Linked DNA regions of Homo sapiens. The protein of the gene in region 1 purifies or fractionates together with the protein of each later gene. This does not show direct contact. Each region holds a gene or a part of one and is shown in the gene's direction. Other genes may lie near its edges.

Region 1 (3,500 bases):
ATGTCCCAGAATGCAATTTCCCATGTTTTGGCCTTTCCATTTCTTTCTCTTTCTCTTCCTTCTGCCTCTCCAACAGCAAAAGATAGAAATACTCATGGTTAAAAGGCACCCATCAGCCAGACAGGAAGAAAGTGCTTAATTGTGAGAGGCCTCCCAAGGATTGATAGAAGTATTGGCTTGAACATAGATGGTACCTGCAACTGTACCTAGGGTAGCAGCATTCTCCTTCCAGATCCCCTCTCCTCCAACCCTGGAGTCTCCACATTTGTTGAAAATGCAATCTCCTGGGCTTTGCTCAAATTTTGAAACTTGTCTGATGGTGGAAATTCAGGGAAGGAGGAGGAGAATGTTCTGGAAGCATCATTTGGTCTGAAAGTTGGAGGTCCTGAGCTGAAGTCTTGATCGTCCACTGCCTTTCCCTGGATAAGTCACTTCCCTCACATCCTCCTTTTTTTTTTTTTTTTTTTTTGTCTTTGAATTGGTCTGGATGATCTCCAAGCTCTCTTTTAACTCTCACATTGTTCTTAAGGCCATGGAAGAGGGTGAAGTTGACCAATCCACTCAAGGATTGAGCCCATTACAGTGGCAGTATAAGCATGGCCTTCCAGCCAACTCACATAGGATCTTCTTCCTTCCTCGGCCATCATAAACTTTGCTTGAGCACCTGTGCAGTGTGAAACCCTGTGTTGGATGTTAGAGATAAAAATAGGTATAAGCCACAAGCCCCAGCCCCCAAGAGCTCAAAACCAAGCCATAGAGCCCCACCAAATTTCATATTCTGGGTATGGTTATGTAAATCCATTGCAAACCTCTTTGTCCTGTGTGGGAAGAGATTAAATGATCTAGTACATTTGATATGACAATCTGTTGCTTTAATAGAGCCCAGGGTAAGATATGATTAAAAGAAGTGCCACAAAGAAGAACAGGAGAATCTTTCATCTCTAGAAACTAATGAAGACGGACCCCAGATACAAGAACGGTCTGGCTCCAAGTGGTGCAATCAAATTATATAAGACTATAATAAGCTTGACACAATTGGATTTCCATATGAAACTCTCAACACCCAGCACTCACCTAAAGCAATTGCAGCCACATCCTCAAATGATGAGGAACTTGCTTGAATGTAAATATCTAGCCAAGGGGAGGGCTGGAGCAGGATTCCCATGGAGTAAAACTGTCCTGGCCCCCTAGTCAATGTTCTCTGCTTGTAGAGAGGAGGAATGATAGGGCTGATTTGCCATCATCCTTTCTCTCCCAGGTCCCCCTTTTTATTCTCTCCTTCATCAAGAGGAGCAGTCTTCCTCAGACTTAAAGGAAGATCTTTCAGGCTCAAGTCCTGGCCCCTTCCCCACATTTAGAAGCCTGGGAAGGGAGTTGAATTGTTTCTGCAAGGAGATACTTCCCAGGAAGCAAGAGATATACATCCTTTGTGCTTCTGTTGTCCACCTGAACCCCTGAGACTGTGGCCTCCTTTTAGCAGATGAACCAGCCCAGCAGGACACTTGGGGAGAGGGTGACAAGAAGTGGAAATTGCCACAATTTCCCTAGGACTCTTTTCCTGCTTAGGGTCCATGCTGAAGTCACATGTGGACTTGCTCAGAGCCAGGAGGAGGGACCTTCTACTCCAGGATGGGTCTGCTATCCTTGTGGGCTGTTCTGCTTCCAGTAGCAAGCACCTGGGGCTGTAAATAGATTTACAGAGCCCAAACCTCAAGCTGCATTTTTTTAAACTAGCAAGAAACCTCTACCCAGTCCCTTCTCCCTCTCTCAGTCTCATTCCTTAGTCCTCTCTCTTTGGCTGTGCTACTGTCATAGTGACAATGATTACAGTCATTAGGAAGGAGAAGGGCAGCCAGCATATGTAATGTGTTCAGCTTCTCCCTGTGCAAGCAGGAGAGATGAGCTTGATACCATGCAGCCCTCCTGCATGGTATCAACATGGTGATACATGGTGAAACCCCATCTCTACTAAAAATACAAAATTAGCTGAGTGTGTTGGTGGGTGCCTGTAATCCCAGCTACTCAGGAGGCTGAGGCAGGAGAATTGCTTGAACCCAGGAGGCAGAGGTTGCAGTGAGCCGAGATCACGCTACTGCACACCAGCCTGGGTGACAGCGAGACTCCGTCTCAAAAAAATAAAAAAACCATATACATGCATGAATCTACTCCCAAAGACAGATATACAATTGTAAATGTGTTTATTAACTTTAAAAATCGAGAACCTACTGTTTACTGGGGGTACATCAGTAAACAAGGCAAAAACTCCTGCCCTCAAGGAATTTACATTTTAGTGGAAGAGAAAGAGAAAGTATCAAGAAAAATATATAAAACATATATTTCCTTAGTAATACGTGCAAAGAAAAAAATTGCAGAGGAGTTAAGAAGCATTGAAGAGCACATAGGCCCACTCCTTGCTTTTCTCATAATTAACTAATACTTGGGGACCTACTATATGCAGAAAATTGTACTGGACCCTAGAGGAGAATCAGGGCAGCTATCACATACACTCCTCTAAGGAGTTTGCAATTTAGTTAGAGATAAGAAAACTGAGGAGCACAACTGAATAGCACATGGCATTTTGCAATACTGAGTAGATAAAGGTCATGAAACCTTTGGGAGAAGAGAGCTTGGATGAGTGATATTTCTCCTGCCAGGATTATACCCGGGCTGGAGAGATGAGTGGAGACTCCTGGGAATTCTGACCCAACCAAGCTATACAAAGTGGGTACACAACTGGAGATGCATGAGGTTGGAGAGAAACAGCCTCATCCCCTTCATCAGGTGTCACCTGGGAAGCCAGCCTCACAGCTTCACCAGCCTTGCTGTCTTTTTGTATCATGGTCTGCCTCATTCTTTTATTATCTCTGCCAATCACAGAAGGCCCGCCTTGCCAGGATCCGTGTGGCCAAAACAGGCAGTTCGAATGCATACCTGCACAGCAAGCGCAACGGGCTCCTCAACGAGGCGCTGGAGCTGACGGTAGGTGCCTAGAGGACCTGGGCTAGGGAACATAAAGGGGTAGATGGGCTTGTTTTCTCTTTCCCGGGACACCAGCACTCTCACCAGAGCCCCAGTATGAACCCCAAGGAGGACACGTTTCCAAACTTTCCCCAGGTAGCAGCCCCCCATTCACACACCACTTCCATAGGATTATCACCACTACCTCTAAACCAGGTTTAGACCAAGGGCCCCTGAGCCCAAAGGTTAGCATATTCAATGCTGACCCTGAAATTTGGTCAAATAAAAAAAAATTTGATTATTCTATTGCCCTTTGACCTTTAGTGGAGAAATGAAGGAGCTGGAGAGGGGAAGAGCCACCAGCTTTTTACTCAATCTCTCTTCTTTTTTTACTAGGGCACCCCAGAAGAGGAGCACATGGGCAAGACCACCTCACTCATCGAGAGCCAGCATCATCACCTGCTGCACTGCCTGGAAAAAACCACTGTGAGTCCCAGCCCTTTGCCACCTCCTTTTCATCGCTGACCCTGACCCTTTTCTAA
Region 2 (5,032 bases), on another chromosome or scaffold:
GCTAATGTCCTCATTGTTTTCTCCTTTGTATTTATTTATTTATTTAGAGATGGAGTTCCGCTCTTGTCGCCCAGGCTGGAGTGCAATGGCGTGGTCTTGGCTCACTGCAACCTCCGCCTCCCAGGTTCAAGCGATTCTCCTGTCTCAGCCTCCCAAGTAGCTGGGATTACAGGTGCCCACCACCATGGCCGGCGAATATTTTGTATTTTTAGTAGAGACAGGGTTTCACCATGTTGGCCAGGCTGGTCTTGAACTCCTGACCTCAAGTGATCCACCTGCCTCGGCCTCCCAAAGTACTGGGATTATAGGCGTGAGCCACCGCGCCCGGCCTCTCCTTTGTATTTAATTAGCATTTTGTGAAGAGAGATTAAGGTGTGCCAATTTTTTGGTTTTTTTTTTTTTTTTTTTTTTTTTTTTTTTTTTTTTTTTTTGGAGGCAGGGTCTTGCTTCATTTCCCAGGGTGGAGTACAATGGCCTGGTCACGGCTCACTACAGCCTCGACCTCCCAGGCTCCAGCAATTCTCCCAACTCAGCTTACGGAGTAGCTGGGACTACAGGTGTGCGCCACCATGCCCAGATACGTTTTTTATTTTTTGTAGCGATGGGGGTTCACCTGTTGCCGAGGCTGTTCTCGAATTCCTCGGCCCAAGCAATCGGCCTGCCTCGGCTTCCCAAAGTGTTGGGATTACAGGCATGAGCCCCCATACCCAGCCTCAACTTGGATGTTTTTTGCCCTCCATTTTTTTTCTCTCACAGGATAGACTTGTGGACAAATGGATCACTTGCCTCTGGTGCGTTTTTTTGTTTGTTTGTTTTGTTTTGTTTCTTAATTTAGCGACGAGGTCTTACTATGTTGCCCAAGCTGGTCTTGATCCTCGGCTCAAGCAATCCTCCTGCCTTGGCCTCCCAAAGTGCTGGAATTACAGGCGTGGGCCAGTACACCCAGCCCTAGAACTGCTTTGATCATTGTATCCCCAGAAACTAGCACACAACGCTGCACACAGTAGGTGTGCATGCCTGTAATCCCAGCTACTCGGGAGGCTGAAGCAGGAGAATCGCTTGAACCCGGGAGGCGGAGGTCGCAATGAGCCGAGATCATGCCACTGCACTCCAGCCTAGGCGACAGAGCAAGACTCCGTATCAATCAATCAGTCAATCAATCCAAGCAAAACAAAACTGGCTTTGAACAGTCAGCGGCATCCCACCAGGGATTGAGCCCCAGTGTGGGGCACACTCTGTTTACATTAGCTAGCTCATTTATTCCCCACAAAAGCCAGACAAGGCAGGTACTAATTATGATCGTGCGATATTAAACATGGAGAAACCAACGCTCTGATAAGTTCGTTTTATTGTGAGAATAAAACTGCTCAATGGGCGCTGTTATTCCAAGCGAGGTCAGGATTTCCGGATTCTACCCCGCTCCGCCCCTGGCCCCGCCCCGAGAATGTACGTCCCGCCAGGCCCCGCCCCGGCCTTGTCCCACCCACCCCGTCCCCGCCCCCTGTCCGTCTCGCCCTAGTCCCACCTCCTCGTCCCCAGTCAGTCCTGCCTCTCGAACCGCCCCCTGCCTTCGCCGAGGCAGGGAGAGGTGCCTGCAGTGCGAGCCGTGGACGCTAGGGGGCAGCCGCTCGGCTCGGGCCCGACCGCTCTGGGCTGCGCTCCTCGCTTGCCCTCGGACTCGGCTCCCGCTGCGAGCGGCCGCCCTGCCCGCGCACCGCGCTCAGCGCCCACCGCCGGGCTTCCCGCGCCGGACCCAGTACCTCGGCTCCCCGGGGCCGGACCGAGGCCGCAAGCAGCGCCGCGGGGTGTGGGGCGGACCCAGGAGATGAAATGACAACGTCAACCCTCCAGGTACTTCGTGCGGCCCGGCCCGACTTCGGAGGCCGAAGGCAGCGGGGCCTGCGGGCCGCAGAGCCGGGCGGCGGGCGGGTGGTCAGGTGGGCGCCTCCCAGCCCCGGCCTCGCGACCCCGCTCCGGCCGCCCCCTCGCCGCTTCCGCCCGTGTCTGTTTCCACGCGCTCGGAGCCGGGTGGCATCTCCACCCTCAGGCCTTCCGGCCCTGCCCGGCTGGCCCAGCCCCAGGGCCGCTTCGTGTAGCCGGCGCCCCGGTACCGCCGTGGGGATCAGCCTCACCCGAGCCGCACAGGCACCCTCAGGAAGCTCGGCCCGGGGTCCGGCTGGGCGTTCAGACAGCGATGCTCGCTCCCTCCTCTCCTGTCTCGCTCCCTCCTCTCCTGTCCCGGGTCCTGGAAGTCCCTCGACCTCACTTCGAACAAGCCCCGGCCCCTTCCCCAATCTTCGACTTCCTCTTCTCGGCCAGCGACCCTTCATTCATTCCCTAGATCCTGCAGGGTGGTGCTGGGATGGCGCCACCTGGGTGAACAACTGACCCACCCTCTAGGTGCTGTCAGTCCTGCGGGGCCAGAAGAGATCAACATGCTCAGGCCTCATTCCGGGGTTTGAATCTCAGCTCTGCCACTCACCAGCAAGTGACCTTGGGCTAGTTTTTTTTTTTCATCTTCGGGTCTCGAGTTTCCTGGTCTGTAAAATGGGGTAATGCCCTCTAGGTTGTTGTGATGATAGCTTTAAATTGAATAATTACGGTAAAGCATTCTTGTATGTCTGGCACATAGTAGGTGTCCATTAAGTGACAGCCAACAAAGTGCCTGGGAGAGTTAGGCAAGACTTCATGGAAGAAGGGACATCAGAGTTCCAGTAGCATTCAGAGACCTGGAGGTGGAGGAGGGCAGAAGTAGGAGCAGACATGGAATGAGTTGGGGTACCAGGTTAGGAATTAAGAGTCCATAGCCAGATCCCACCGTACCACCAGCAGAAGCCGCAGATCCCGTCTGCCCAGGCAGGTTTTTTATGGCCCGTGAACCGAGAATGTTTTTCAGTTTCAAACACAGGTGTATTTATTTATTTTTAAATTTTATTTATTTATTTTTTTGAGATGGAGTCTCACTCTGTCACCCAGACTGGAGTGCAGTGGTGTGATCTTGGCTCACTGCAGCCTCTGCCTCTCAGGTTCAAGCGATTCTCCTGCCTCAGCCTCCTGAGTAGCTGGGATTACGGGCACCCGCAACCACGCCCGGCTAATTTTTGTATTTTTAGTAGAGACCGGGTTTCACCGTGTTGGCCAGGCTGGTCTCGAACTCCCGACCTCAGATGATCTGCCCACTTCGGCCTCCCAGAGTGCTGGGATTACAGGTGTGAGCCACGGGTCTGGCCTAAACACAGCTTTATTAAGGTATAACTTGCGTGCTTACCATATAACTCACCCGTTATATATTTTTGTTTTTATTAATTTTTTTTTTTGAGACAGTCTCATTCTGTCACCCAGGCTGGAGTGCAGTGGCACAATCTCAACTCATTGCGGCCTCCGCCTCCTGGGTTCAAGTGATTCTCCTGCCTCAGCCTCCCAAGTAGCTGGGATTACAGGCACCTCCCATCACACCCAGCTAATATTTTTTTGTATTTTTAGTAGAGACGGGGTTTCACCATGTTGGCCAGGCTGGTTTCGAACTCCTGACTTCAAGTGTGATCTGCCCACCTCGGCCGCCCAAAGTGCTGGGATTACAGATGTGAGCCACTGTGCCCAGCGCAACTCACCCATTTAAAGTGTATAATTCAGTGCTTTTAGTATATTCATGGTTGTGTGACCATCACCATAATCACTTTTTAGAATATTTTCATCACCTCCAAAAGAAACCCCTCACCCACAACCCCTCTCTCTCCCAGCCCTGGGCAACCACTGCTAATCTACTTTTTTTCTCTGTGGGTTTGCCTACAGAGAAACCCACTTTATATAAACAGAGTCATACAATAGGTGGTCCTTTGTGGCTAGCTTCTTTCATTATGACTTAACATAATGTCATAGGTTTTTACATTTTTTAAATGGCTTGAAAAACAGTATTTCATGACACATGAAAATCCTATGAAATTCACATTTCAGGGTCTATAAATAAAGTTTTATTGGAACACATCCCTGTTCGTTTATTGATATACTGTCTACAGCTGCTTTTGTGCCATCAAGGTAGAGTTGAGTCGTTGCTACAGAGATTATCTGGCTGGCAAATCCTAAATTATTTACCATCTGGTCCTTTACAGTAAGCATTTGCCAGCCCCCATTAGCACTCTTTTCTTTCATCCTCATCTTTTGCCATACGTGTTACTAGAGATGCGGCGGGGCTGGCAGTTTCTCACCTTACCCTCCTGTTCTGTAAAACTGTTTCTCTCCATTGAAACTTGGACCCCCTGTGTGTGAAAAACTGTATGTGGCTGCCAGAAAAGTCCAGTGCACTCTTTTTTTTTTTTTTTTTTTTGAGATGGACTCTTGCTCTGGTGTGATCTCGGTTCTCTGCAGCCTCCACCTCCTGGGTTCAAGCAATTCTCCTGCCTCAGCCTCCCAAGTAGCCGTAACTACAGGCACGCGTCACCACACCCGGCTAACTTTTTGTATTTTTAGTAGAGATGGTGCTTCACTGTGTTAGCCAGGATGGTCTCAATCTCCTGACCTCCGGTGATCCGCCCGCCTCCGCGTCCCAAAGTGCTGGGATTACAGGCATGAGCCACCGTGCCCAGCCCCAGCACACTCTTAGGTGTATTACTAGAATTTCCAAAAGGAGGGAGGGGATGGGTCAGTGCTGCTCCTTATGGGACAAAGAATACCTTCAGTATTGTTCTAAGGATAGACCCAAGCATGAAGCTACAGAGAGTGAAAAAGTCCAAGGTACTGGGGGTGTGTGTTCTGGAGACGAGAAGCCACCAGGGAGAGGAGCGCTGCCTTCCTGTCTCATCTGAAGGAACATCATGCAGAAGAGGGCAGACAAGGGCAGCCTGTGCCTAAGCTCATTTCCAAGAAGGTTTGGGGCTCCCAGCCATTCATTGTAGGTAGTAGAGGGAGCAGAGGCTTGAAAATAATGGCCAGCACTCACCCCTCTTCTCATCTCTTCAATCCGCTGAGTTCATTTCACATCAGCCTGGCCCAGCCTCCCCTGGCCTGTCTGTTTTGTCGAGCTGTCTGTGTGTGT
Region 3 (5,311 bases), on another chromosome or scaffold:
ATTCCTCTGCAGAATGAATGTCTATAGAGAGTAATCCATGGAAGACAGACAAGCCTCTTGTCATTTGTAGCCTTAATCCATTGCCTAGAGCGTGAAAGTGCCTAGTATAACAAGTGTGGGAATCAGTAAAATCAACATTATTTTTGGATTTTATTTTCTTAACAATACTGGCTGATCAATAGGCTTGAGGAAACTGACAAATACAATAAGATCTGTTTGATGAGTCAATCTAGTGAAGTAGAGAGAGAATTCCTACTCCCTTTTCCCCATTCTCCCCCTCTTTAAATCCTCCTCTTCCTCCTTCTCCACCTACATTCACACAAGCCACACATCCAACGGCAGAGAGGGAGAGACAGAGAGAGAGAGAGAGAGAGAGAGAGAGAAAGCAGAGCGAGCGAGCGCTGTGCTTTCTCTATTGGTCTGTGGACATTAAGTAATGAAAGCTGTAGTGACAATGCTTAGATCATTTTCTTAAGAATACTAAGCCACTTTCAGTAGGTGTTTATGTTTTTAATTGTGAGACTCACTCTCTCCCTTCAGCCAAGAAGTTTCCCTACTATTGAAGTTGAGTCTCTGGATTCCAAGTGCTGTTCTGGAGGTGGGGGGTGGGGAGTGGTGGTAGGAGGGGGTAGGGCAGAATCATTTGGGGAATAAAGGAGAGAAAGTTCTGTCCTGTTAACTTTTTTATACATCCCCTAAAGATTCTTGTAAAAATATCAGCTTTGAGGAAAACTGAATGAAAAATAAGAGAGAAAATTGAGAGGCCACAGCCAACTACTTGTTTCAGAAGGAACTAATGGTGTTCATATGACTGCCTGAATACATGCCTATACGTCCCACAGAAAATTTAGTAACCCTTCAGCAGCTCATGAAGACACAGAGATATTCTTTTCATGTTACTCCTTGACACTCAGCAGGGACTTTTGTGAACTTTGTCATCTTCCGCTGCCCTTTAAACCAAAACTAGGGAAGTGTCTTTAATTAATGAGATGTGATGCATTGAAAATGTTAGCCAGAGCATTCCAGAAGCTGGAAAACCATAGACGTTTTTAAATTCTGAGTATCCTTTTGAGAATCCCCCGTTGTAATTTATAATTCTCAAAGGACCTATATTTGTCTTGAACTGATTGTTGGAATGGGCTTTAGTAGGAATTTCTTCCCTGAAATTGCAGTGGGACAGAGGAAGGGGGTGGTTGAGCCCAGGGGGTTTGTTGGGAGGAGGGAATGATCTCTAACAAGGCTTTAAAACCTTCAGTGGTTAAAGTTGTATTGATGAGGATATATAGACACACACACACACACACACACACACACGCACACATACAATGCACAAGTTCAGCAGGATTGTATAATGAGCATGAATTGTAAATTTTGTAGGTAGCAGAATTCAGATTTTTAAAATCAAAATTGCACCCAAAAATGGCTATAAAACAACGCTTGCCTTGGGAAGTAAATTTATAGCTACATGCCTTTCACAGGCACGCCTGAGGGTTCTGCTCCCGGCTCTAATCTCTACGAGATGTTTTTTGCATGTGTTGTGTGACAGGAGGGAAGGGGAGTAGGTTGAGCTCGCCTGTTCTCCCATTGTCAGCCAGTCTAGTGAGTGTTGGGGAAACCTGTCTGTGGGATCTTGTGTCATCTCCCTCTACATGCGTACAGGAAAAGTCCGCGCTGCTCACGGTTTCTCTCTCTCTCTCTCTCTCTCTCTCTCTTTCTCTCTCTCTCTCTCTCTGTTTCCCTTTCATTCTGCTTCCCCGGAGCCGAATGAAGCAGGGAGCAGGATTAGAGACTGCCACCGGCTATCAGAGGAGCTTAGATAAAAGGAACTGCTTCTTAAGCACCACTGCAGCAGACCTTGTTAATTTTTTTTTTTTTTCTTTCCACACAACAGTTGTGCCTCATTATCCGGTGCCTGGCTCGGAATTTTTTTTTTTTTTTTTCTTTTTGGAGGGTTTGAAGTTTCTGTGCTTCAGTGACTGTTACAGAAGAAGAGGTGTTAGTGTTGCCATGAGGTCTTGATTGTCTGCATTTATGAATGAAACTGACCTAAATCACCTGTTACCTCCAGTTTCCAGATTGTTTGAACTTCTCTGGCCGCACAATACAGGAAGGAAGACTAAAGCAGCAAAGGGACCTACAGCGTCTGCAGCATGGGCTGGTTAACTAGGATTGTCTGTCTTTTCTGGGGAGTATTACTTACAGCAAGAGCAAACTATCAGAATGGGAAGAACAATGTGCCAAGGCTGAAATTATCCTACAAAGGTAAATCTTATTTTTCTTTTATTTGGTTAGCTTTGTAATAACCGCCCCCCCCCTTAATTCCTTGAACTCCCTCCCAACCCCAAATCATCAAACCTTTAGTTTAACCTGGTAAACCGACGTGATTATGTGTATCTTTCTGAGATGCTTTAAACGCTTTTTGTAAAAAGCATGTCTTCTGTTTGATATATGACAACTTAAATGCAAACAAAGAACATTTAATCACATTTGCTGAAAAGAGCTGTATGCCTGGTACACGCTGATCTGTATATCTTATTATCCTATCTTATGCCTGTTAATTTTTCCGACTTTAATTCTATTAAAATATTTTCTTAAAAATAGAAATGCAAAAATGGTCTCTTTGTAGATGTGCATGCCTTACCTATAATTACTATGATGAATTGCATTTTCTTAGTTTTAGACATGAAATGGTTAATCGTCATCATGAATATTCAGTTTGTTCAAATCTGACAATCAGATGCTTAACATAAGCAGTAGATCATGGTTTGCCAAGAGAACATAAACTGGATGGAACAGACTAGTTTTTCCACAGTGCCTTATGATTGTACAAAAGACTGTATTTGGCTAATTGTGTAAAGCTAAAGTCTTTGAAATATTATGTTATTTAATTCTATATGTACTTCAGTGAGAACTGCAGACACATTACTGTCTGCTTGCATAGGTAGTTGTGTAAACTTCTCTTTTGAAAAGTATAAATTAAAGAGAGAAAAAAGAGCTTTATCACTAGTGCTTTATTTGGTTACAATTTAATGTATGTGCTTATTTTTATTGAGGATTTTTTATGTTTGTTCCACATTTGCTTAGATAGGTCTTATAGATAGATGATGTGTAAAGTAATGCTAAAGTAGAGCCCAAAATGATATACATACATTTAGTGGCAGTAAATCTTTCTATAACTCAGGTATTATTAAAATGGAGTTGAAGATTAAACTGTTTTAACTCAAGTAGTTTTACTCCCTAAGGTGTTGATTTCTTATGATTCTCAGATTTCTAAAATTGGGGGTGGAGCAGTGAGAAGCTCTAATTAAGCTTATTTTTTAGCCTATAAGTTAAAATAAAAATTATTGAAGGTATTTGTAGAGATGTCTGTCTACTGTACCTTGCTCTTATGCCACAAAACATATTCTTTAATTCTCATATGATGGGGAACATCTTTTTCTGAATGCCCTAGTGTGAATGAGGATCTCAAATCAGAAGAGAGATGTAATTTTCACACTTTGAATTAGAAAATTAAACACCTAGTAATGTGTTTCTTTGGACTTAGTGCTCGTTAAATGAAATGCATTGAATTAGAATATCTATTTACTTTTTGGTGTAATGTTTTCCTGAGTATCAAGTTGGGAATAGAGACTTAAACATCAACAAACAGAAGTGCAATTGTACTTATGTAAGTTTTAAAAAATCATGTAGCGTTATTTAATTAATTTAGTAACTGTCTTTAAATTATTTCCATAGTATATGATATTATGGTGTCTGTGTTTTTATCAGTTTTGCTTTCTGTTTTCACTCCTTGACAAGGTGACATCAAATAAGTCTAAGTTGATGGTCCACTTTATCCAAGTTTATGTTCCCTATAAGTTTTACATGCAACTTTAGTTCTCAAAGATGTGACTGGCTATTTGTAATACTTTTAGTTTAACAAGTTTAAAATCATGATATATATTTTAAAAATCTGCTAGGCTTGAATATATCTAAGTGCTAAATTCATTTTAAAATAAAATAAAAATAGGGAATTAAACTTTTTTATTTTGCAAGAATTTTATTTCCATGATAATAGGTTACTCTCCATGATAGAGGAGGCACTTGTTCTTTCTGTACATTAAAAATATTACATTTAATTTGAATATCCTTTGTTGTACACATATGCCTTAAACCTATCTGATGAAGCAAGCAGTATATATTAGCAAGGTGTATATATTTGATATTGTCTTTATAAGCCTTGTTTTAGTGATGGCATCCATTAGAATTATTCTGCTTTCCTTTAAGTAAAAAACTGCTTTACAGCTACATAACAATCCCATTGATACACCTAGAGCTTAATAATTTGGTAAAATAAACTGTGAAATGAACAACAGGAAGAAGAATAAAAGGAATGGCCTGAGGAAATTTTTTTCTGTTATTTTATTAATCTGTCATTACCTTTTTGTCTCTACATGTACGTTTGTTTGGCCAAAGCAAGTATGTGGTAGCCAATTGCCAGTACTTTGTTTCTAAAGTACAATAGAGATTTTTTTAAAGCTACTTCTTGTTTCTCCTTAATTAGATGTCAAACACAGTTAAAACATCCACTGCATTGCCCTTAAAAATATTCCAGCATGATTCATGAAGAGTTAAATCCCTGCCAACCTTAATTTCCCATGGTCACTTGTTTTCAAAGATCCACCATTAACTCTCTCATTGCTCAGGTTGCCAAGATGAAGTTTCTGGCAATCACTGTGCTTACTTTCTACTTATCATTTTTGCCTGGTAGGAGATGAAAGAGACTTGACATGTTAAAAAGAAGTAAAAACAGGAAAGTGGCCTTTGTAGCGGGTGTACATATCTAATAAGATACCTCTTTACTTTCTAGGAAAAAGGAATTGAATAGATGTGTTCAGGACCATCTGGAGAAGTGATAATATTAGAAAAATGGGGTATGCTGGCTTTTCCTCTGAACCAATTTGATTTAGAATCCTTATGGGGGAAGAAAATGTGAGAACTCTGTAAATCTCAGCAGTTACATAGAAATTATCCTTAAGAAACATTTACTCAGAAATACTTTTGTCTTCTTTAAATATATGTAATATAGCTAAATGGTAAAATCCTTCTTTTAAAAAGTGGTCCATGCATAAATGTTTATTTCTTCTACAAAACTAGTCAAATTTCACTTTTCTCATGAAATACAGGAAAATCATATAATCTTCCATTTGGGATATGTGATACAATGAAGTCTTCAGAAAAACCTGCATGAATCACAAGAAAATAATTAGGGTTTGGGTTTTAAACAAATGACAAATATTCCATCATCCAATGTAAGGGGCTATTCCAGGAC
Region 4 (4,521 bases), on another chromosome or scaffold:
CCCCCGGGCTGGACCCCCAGGGAGCAGCCGATTGTGCACAAGGGGTCCTGAGACAGGTGAAAAATGAGGTGGGCCGCAGCGGTGCCTGGAAGGACCACTGGTGGAGCGCGGTGCAGCCGGAGAGAAGAAATGCCGCCTCCTCCGAGGAGGCCAAGGCCGAAGAAACGGGCGGCGGGAAAGAGAAGGGCAGCGGTGGCAGCGGAGGTGGCAGCCAGCCTCGGGCCGAGCGCAGTCAGCTCCAGGGACCCTCGTCGTCAGAGTACTGGAAGGAGTGGCCCAGCGCTGAGTCCCCATACTCCCAGAGCTCAGAGCTGAGTCTGACCGGGGCCAGCCGCAGCGAGACACCACAGAACAGCCCCCTGCCATCCTCCCCGATCGTGCCCATGTCCAAGCCCACCAAGCCCTCGGTCCCCCCGCTGACCCCCGAGCAGTACGAGGTCTACATGTACCAGGAGGTGGACACCATCGAGCTCACCCGGCAGGTTAAGGAAAAGCTGGCCAAGAACGGCATCTGCCAGAGAATCTTCGGGGAGAAGGTAAGGGATCTGCTCTGGGGGCTTTGGTTCTCCCATCTCTTCTCCTTGCTGAGGACCAAGTATCTATCCCGCAGCCTGTGACCCTCACCCATTTCAATTCACCCAAGAGCAGAGCGTAAGGCATCCTCTGCTCCCAGACTTCCAAGGTGCGGCTGGTGAACATTGCAGCCCCGATCCCATTTGCCGAGCCCCGACTGCAGCCAGGTTCTAGGCTCAGCCTTTCACCTGCATGCTGCCCTTTCGACCCCTCACTTGGCGCTGGGAAGTGGATGGTAAAATCCCCAATTGACAGGGAAGGACACCAAGGCTTGGGGACGTTAACTACTTGCCCCAAGCTGACCGGCAGCCGAGTCCACATCCAGCTTTTGCTGCCAAGGGGAGCTGAGAGGCACCCCTGCAGGCTTCCTTGGCCAAAAAAAATCCCATCTGATCACACAGAGGGACCACCAGTACGCAGAGAGCCAAAAGGGACTTACTAGAAAAAGCTGCAGAGAGCATTATTGTTCCTTTCTGTGTAACTCTTGGATATTGTTCAGTCAGAGAGGTCAAGCAACCTGCCCGGGGACACACAGCTTGGGGATGGCCCAAGCAGGGTGGCCCGTGTTTCCCTATCATCCTTCCCTGGCTCAGGAAAGTGTAATCGTGCATGGACGAGCTTCTAGGCCTTTCTGTTCTTGGCACTTTCCTGGTCACTGAGATTCAGGAGAATGAGGGTTAACCGTGCCTGCCAAATCTAAAATAAACATCATGTCCTAGTATCATTTTATTTATTTATTTTTTGAGATGGCGTCTCACTCTGTCGCCCATGCTAGAGTGCAGTGACGCTATCTCGGCTCACTGCAACCTCTGCCTCCTGGGTTCAAGCGATTCTCCTGCTTCAGCCTCCTGAGTAGCTGGGATTACGAGTGCCCACCACCACACCCAGCTAATTTTTCTATTTTTAGTCGAGTCAGGGTTTCACCATGTTGGCCAGGCTGGTCTCCTGACCTCAAGTGATCTGCCTGCCTTGGCCTCCCAACCCCCTACCATTTTAGATTAAATAACGGAGTGCTGAATAGAAGGAGAAGCACCCCTCTCCCCTAAAAGGCACCTTCCTGAGGGAGCACGTGGCTGGATCAGCAGGGGACAAATCCCACCCCCTCCCCTGCCAAGCCAGGGTCCCTGCATGGCGCCGTCCCCGCACTCCCCACCCCGCCTTCCACTCAGTGTTTGCCGTATGCTGTGCTGTGAATCCCGGTGGTGTCCGATGGCGAACTTTGCCCTGATTTTGCAAAAGGTGAAGGGGGGCGACTAGAAATGAGGATGAGTATTTCAAGTCCCTTGAGATTTCTAGTTCAGTGTTGTAAAAATACCATTTGAGAACATTGAAATAGACATTCGTGCTCATGCCTTAAATTTAGCAGAGACTTAATAACATTGAACTTGTTTGGCCCGTGAGTGCAGTTTTATTCTGGAACTTGAGAACTTTTCAAAAGAGTGATCGGATGCAGCCCCTAAATATCCCAGGGCGGCATCTGTGTCCTGTGGGGGGTGTTTGTGCCTATACATATGTATGGCCATATGGGAGCGTCAGAAAACTCGGGTGTGTACACGCAACTCGGCAATCATCTGCGGCGGAATGTCACTCCCAGGCCGGCTCCCCAGGTCCCACCAGCTCACCTCTGGGCCCCCACCTTTGATCAGGATGTGGTCAGAACAAGCAGACCTTTCTAAATGCTGGCCTGGCTCAGCGTTTGCAGAGGACACCAGCTTCGCCAGTCCCACCGGCACCCACTGCCCCACCTCTGGAGGGATCTTGTCCCTGGAACCTTAGCCTTTCCCGGTGCCACCAAGTGAAGAGCAAGGTGCTTGTACACACCTCCTCCGCGGGGTGTCAGGGTGACAGCCCTGCCATCTTGGCAGGATCAAGACCCTGGGATGAGACCCTCTTCCCTCCCTGGGAGCTGAGAGCTGTGGCTGTAACCATGGCTCACCCGAAAGTCCCCCTGTGCCGGGGTCTCAGCCACCGTTGATCTTTAAATGCATATTCCCTGCCCACAAGCTGTCACCGCCACCAGGCCGTGGTTCTGTGCTCAGAAGTCAGCCCTAGACGCGCCCTCTGCGTGGTGGGTGTGCATTGCAGCAGCATCTGTGGTGTCATGCTAATAGCCAGGCACTGATGGCCTGTGTGTTCGGTGCCACTCCAGGTGCTGGGCCTGTCCCAGGGCAGCGTCAGCGACATGCTGTCCCGACCGAAGCCATGGAGCAAGCTGACGCAGAAAGGCCGAGAACCCTTCATCCGGATGCAGCTCTGGCTGAACGGCGAGCTAGGCCAGGGTGTTCTACCCGTCCAGGGCCAGCAGCAAGGGCCAGGTAATGGGGGTCCTGCCACAGGAGAGGGGCTGCCCCCCCATAGCAAGGACCTGGTCACAGCAGCCCCACCTGGGCTATGCAGAGAGGGAGGAGGGAACTCCGCCCCAGGAGGTGGCCAACCACACTCCCCACCGTGGGCTGGTGCTGGGGGACAGAACCGTCCCCTTCCTCCACAACCTGTTGCCGTGGGACTGACTTCAGTGTTTAGGAGAGATCATGCCTGTCTAATTTTATAAGCAGCAGAAAATGAGTTACCAATTTAAAAAATGCTGTTTATACATAAATACAGGTAAAAGTCAAGTAGCTGAATCAGGGAGTCAGGAAAGAAAGTCAGCCAAAGGTACAAAAGTGGAAGATGTCACAGGCGAAACCTTTCACCTGCTCCCGGCCCGGGGGCCTGGCCTTGCAACAGCAGCGCCTCCCCGGCCCGTGGGTCCCCATGCCCGCCCCTCCCCAGGAGGAATGGGAAGCCTCCCCGGGCCTTGCCACATTCAGTTAGGAAGCTTTAAGCCCTGGGCCGCGTTCCTTCCTTTAATTATAACCTTTTTCTACTTTAGTCCTCCACTCCGTGACATCGCTCCAGGACCCGCTGCAGCAGGGCTGTGTGAGCTCAGGTAAGCAGCCAGTTTCTGTTGCTTTTGCATGAAATGTCTCACTGCCTTTTCTGTTGTCCCGTGCTGTGGTCTGTCCCGGCGAGACTCCGAGGGACCGCACATTCTGGATTTGGGGAGCTGAAATATGGCATCCTATCTGCAAACGGGGTCCCTCTCTGTGTCAGTTTCTAATGGAGAGCGAGCTGACAGTGCATGGAGGGACTCTGCCAAGATTTGCACGCCCACTGTCATCCTTTGTCGGCCCAGAGCCTTGTGTTCAGGGCTGGGGTCTAAGTCGGAGACAGATTCCCCACTCAGGGGGCTTACCGTCTGATAGGAAGGGATAAAGCACGGGCACACGTCCCTCTCCTGGTGGGGTCATGTCGGGGGACTTCTTATCTAACCGGAAGACATCCAGGCAGCCTCTGAGCAAGAAAATGGGGAGCTTTGAGCTTGAGCAGTGGGAAAGGTAGGGTAGCAGAAAGGAAATGGCCAGGAAGCCCCTGAAGACAGCTCAGGTGTGAACGAATGGAGAGCTGGGGACTGAGATCTGAGCCTGGGAGCAGGTGGTGGCGGAGAGTGGTGGCTGCAGGCTGAGAAACTCGGGCTCCTTCCTGTCTGCATTTCACAGCCTCGAGGTCTCCAACCACACTTGTTCTCTTTGCCACATGGTGCCTGGACACAGCCCACCGAGGCTGACCCATGGCCACGGCTCCCAGGCTCTCGTCTGCGCCCCCCCGCCTCCCTTCTCGTGCGCCAATCCCACACTTGGAGCTGAGCTTTTCACAGCCAGCTTTTAGGAACAGCCAGCACTGTGAGCTGGTCCTCTTTTTCCCTTTCTGTATTTTTCTAAACATGTTGATTCGTCTCCATATCCCATTGATTCATTGAAAACACAAACAAAGCTAACAGGAGCACGAAGCCCGCCAGCTTGCCGCAAGCTCCACGAGGGGGAACATGTGTAGCACGGGGAACAGCTGTGTGGCAGTGGCTGCTGCTTCTACAAGAGACCAAACCCTCATACAGATGCAGCCGGGGCA

Evidence for each region. Proteins that work in one complex are often made in the same cells at the same time.
Region 2: the proteins of KCND3 (region 1) and VPS4A purify together in Homo sapiens (affinity purification with western blotting, with the first as the bait; one study listed by BioGRID). This does not show direct contact.
Region 3: the proteins of KCND3 (region 1) and SEMA3A purify together in Homo sapiens (affinity purification with western blotting, with the first as the bait; one study listed by BioGRID). This does not show direct contact.
Region 4: the proteins of KCND3 (region 1) and CUX1 purify together in Homo sapiens (affinity purification with western blotting, with the first as the bait; one study listed by BioGRID). This does not show direct contact.

The regions. Positions count from the first base shown.
Region 1 is NC_000001.11:111,780,169-111,783,668, reverse strand, and holds part of KCND3 (A-type voltage-gated potassium channel KCND3), read left to right. Parts: intron 1-2,877; coding exon 2,878-2,979; intron 2,980-3,354; coding exon 3,355-3,444; intron 3,445-3,500. UniProt on the Homo sapiens protein: Pore-forming (alpha) subunit of voltage-gated A-type potassium channels that mediates transmembrane potassium transport in excitable membranes, in brain and heart. In cardiomyocytes, may generate the transient outward potassium current I(To).
Region 2 is NC_000016.10:69,309,682-69,314,713, forward strand, and holds the start of VPS4A (vacuolar protein sorting-associated protein 4A), read left to right. Parts: upstream 1-1,668; 5' UTR 1,669-1,830; coding exon 1,831-1,851; intron 1,852-5,032. UniProt on the Homo sapiens protein: Involved in late steps of the endosomal multivesicular bodies (MVB) pathway. Recognizes membrane-associated ESCRT-III assemblies and catalyzes their disassembly, possibly in combination with membrane fission.
Region 3 is NC_000007.14:84,191,426-84,196,736, reverse strand, and holds the start of SEMA3A (semaphorin-3A precursor), read left to right. Parts: upstream 1-1,947; 5' UTR 1,948-2,150; coding exon 2,151-2,262; intron 2,263-5,311. UniProt on the Homo sapiens protein: Involved in the development of the olfactory system and in neuronal control of puberty. Induces the collapse and paralysis of neuronal growth cones. Could serve as a ligand that guides specific growth cones by a motility-inhibiting mechanism.
Region 4 is NC_000007.14:102,201,669-102,206,189, forward strand, and holds part of CUX1 (Homeobox protein cut-like 1), read left to right. Parts: coding exon 1-536; intron 537-2,722; coding exon 2,723-2,888; intron 2,889-3,445; coding exon 3,446-3,502; intron 3,503-4,521. UniProt on the Homo sapiens protein: May be involved in intra-Golgi retrograde transport.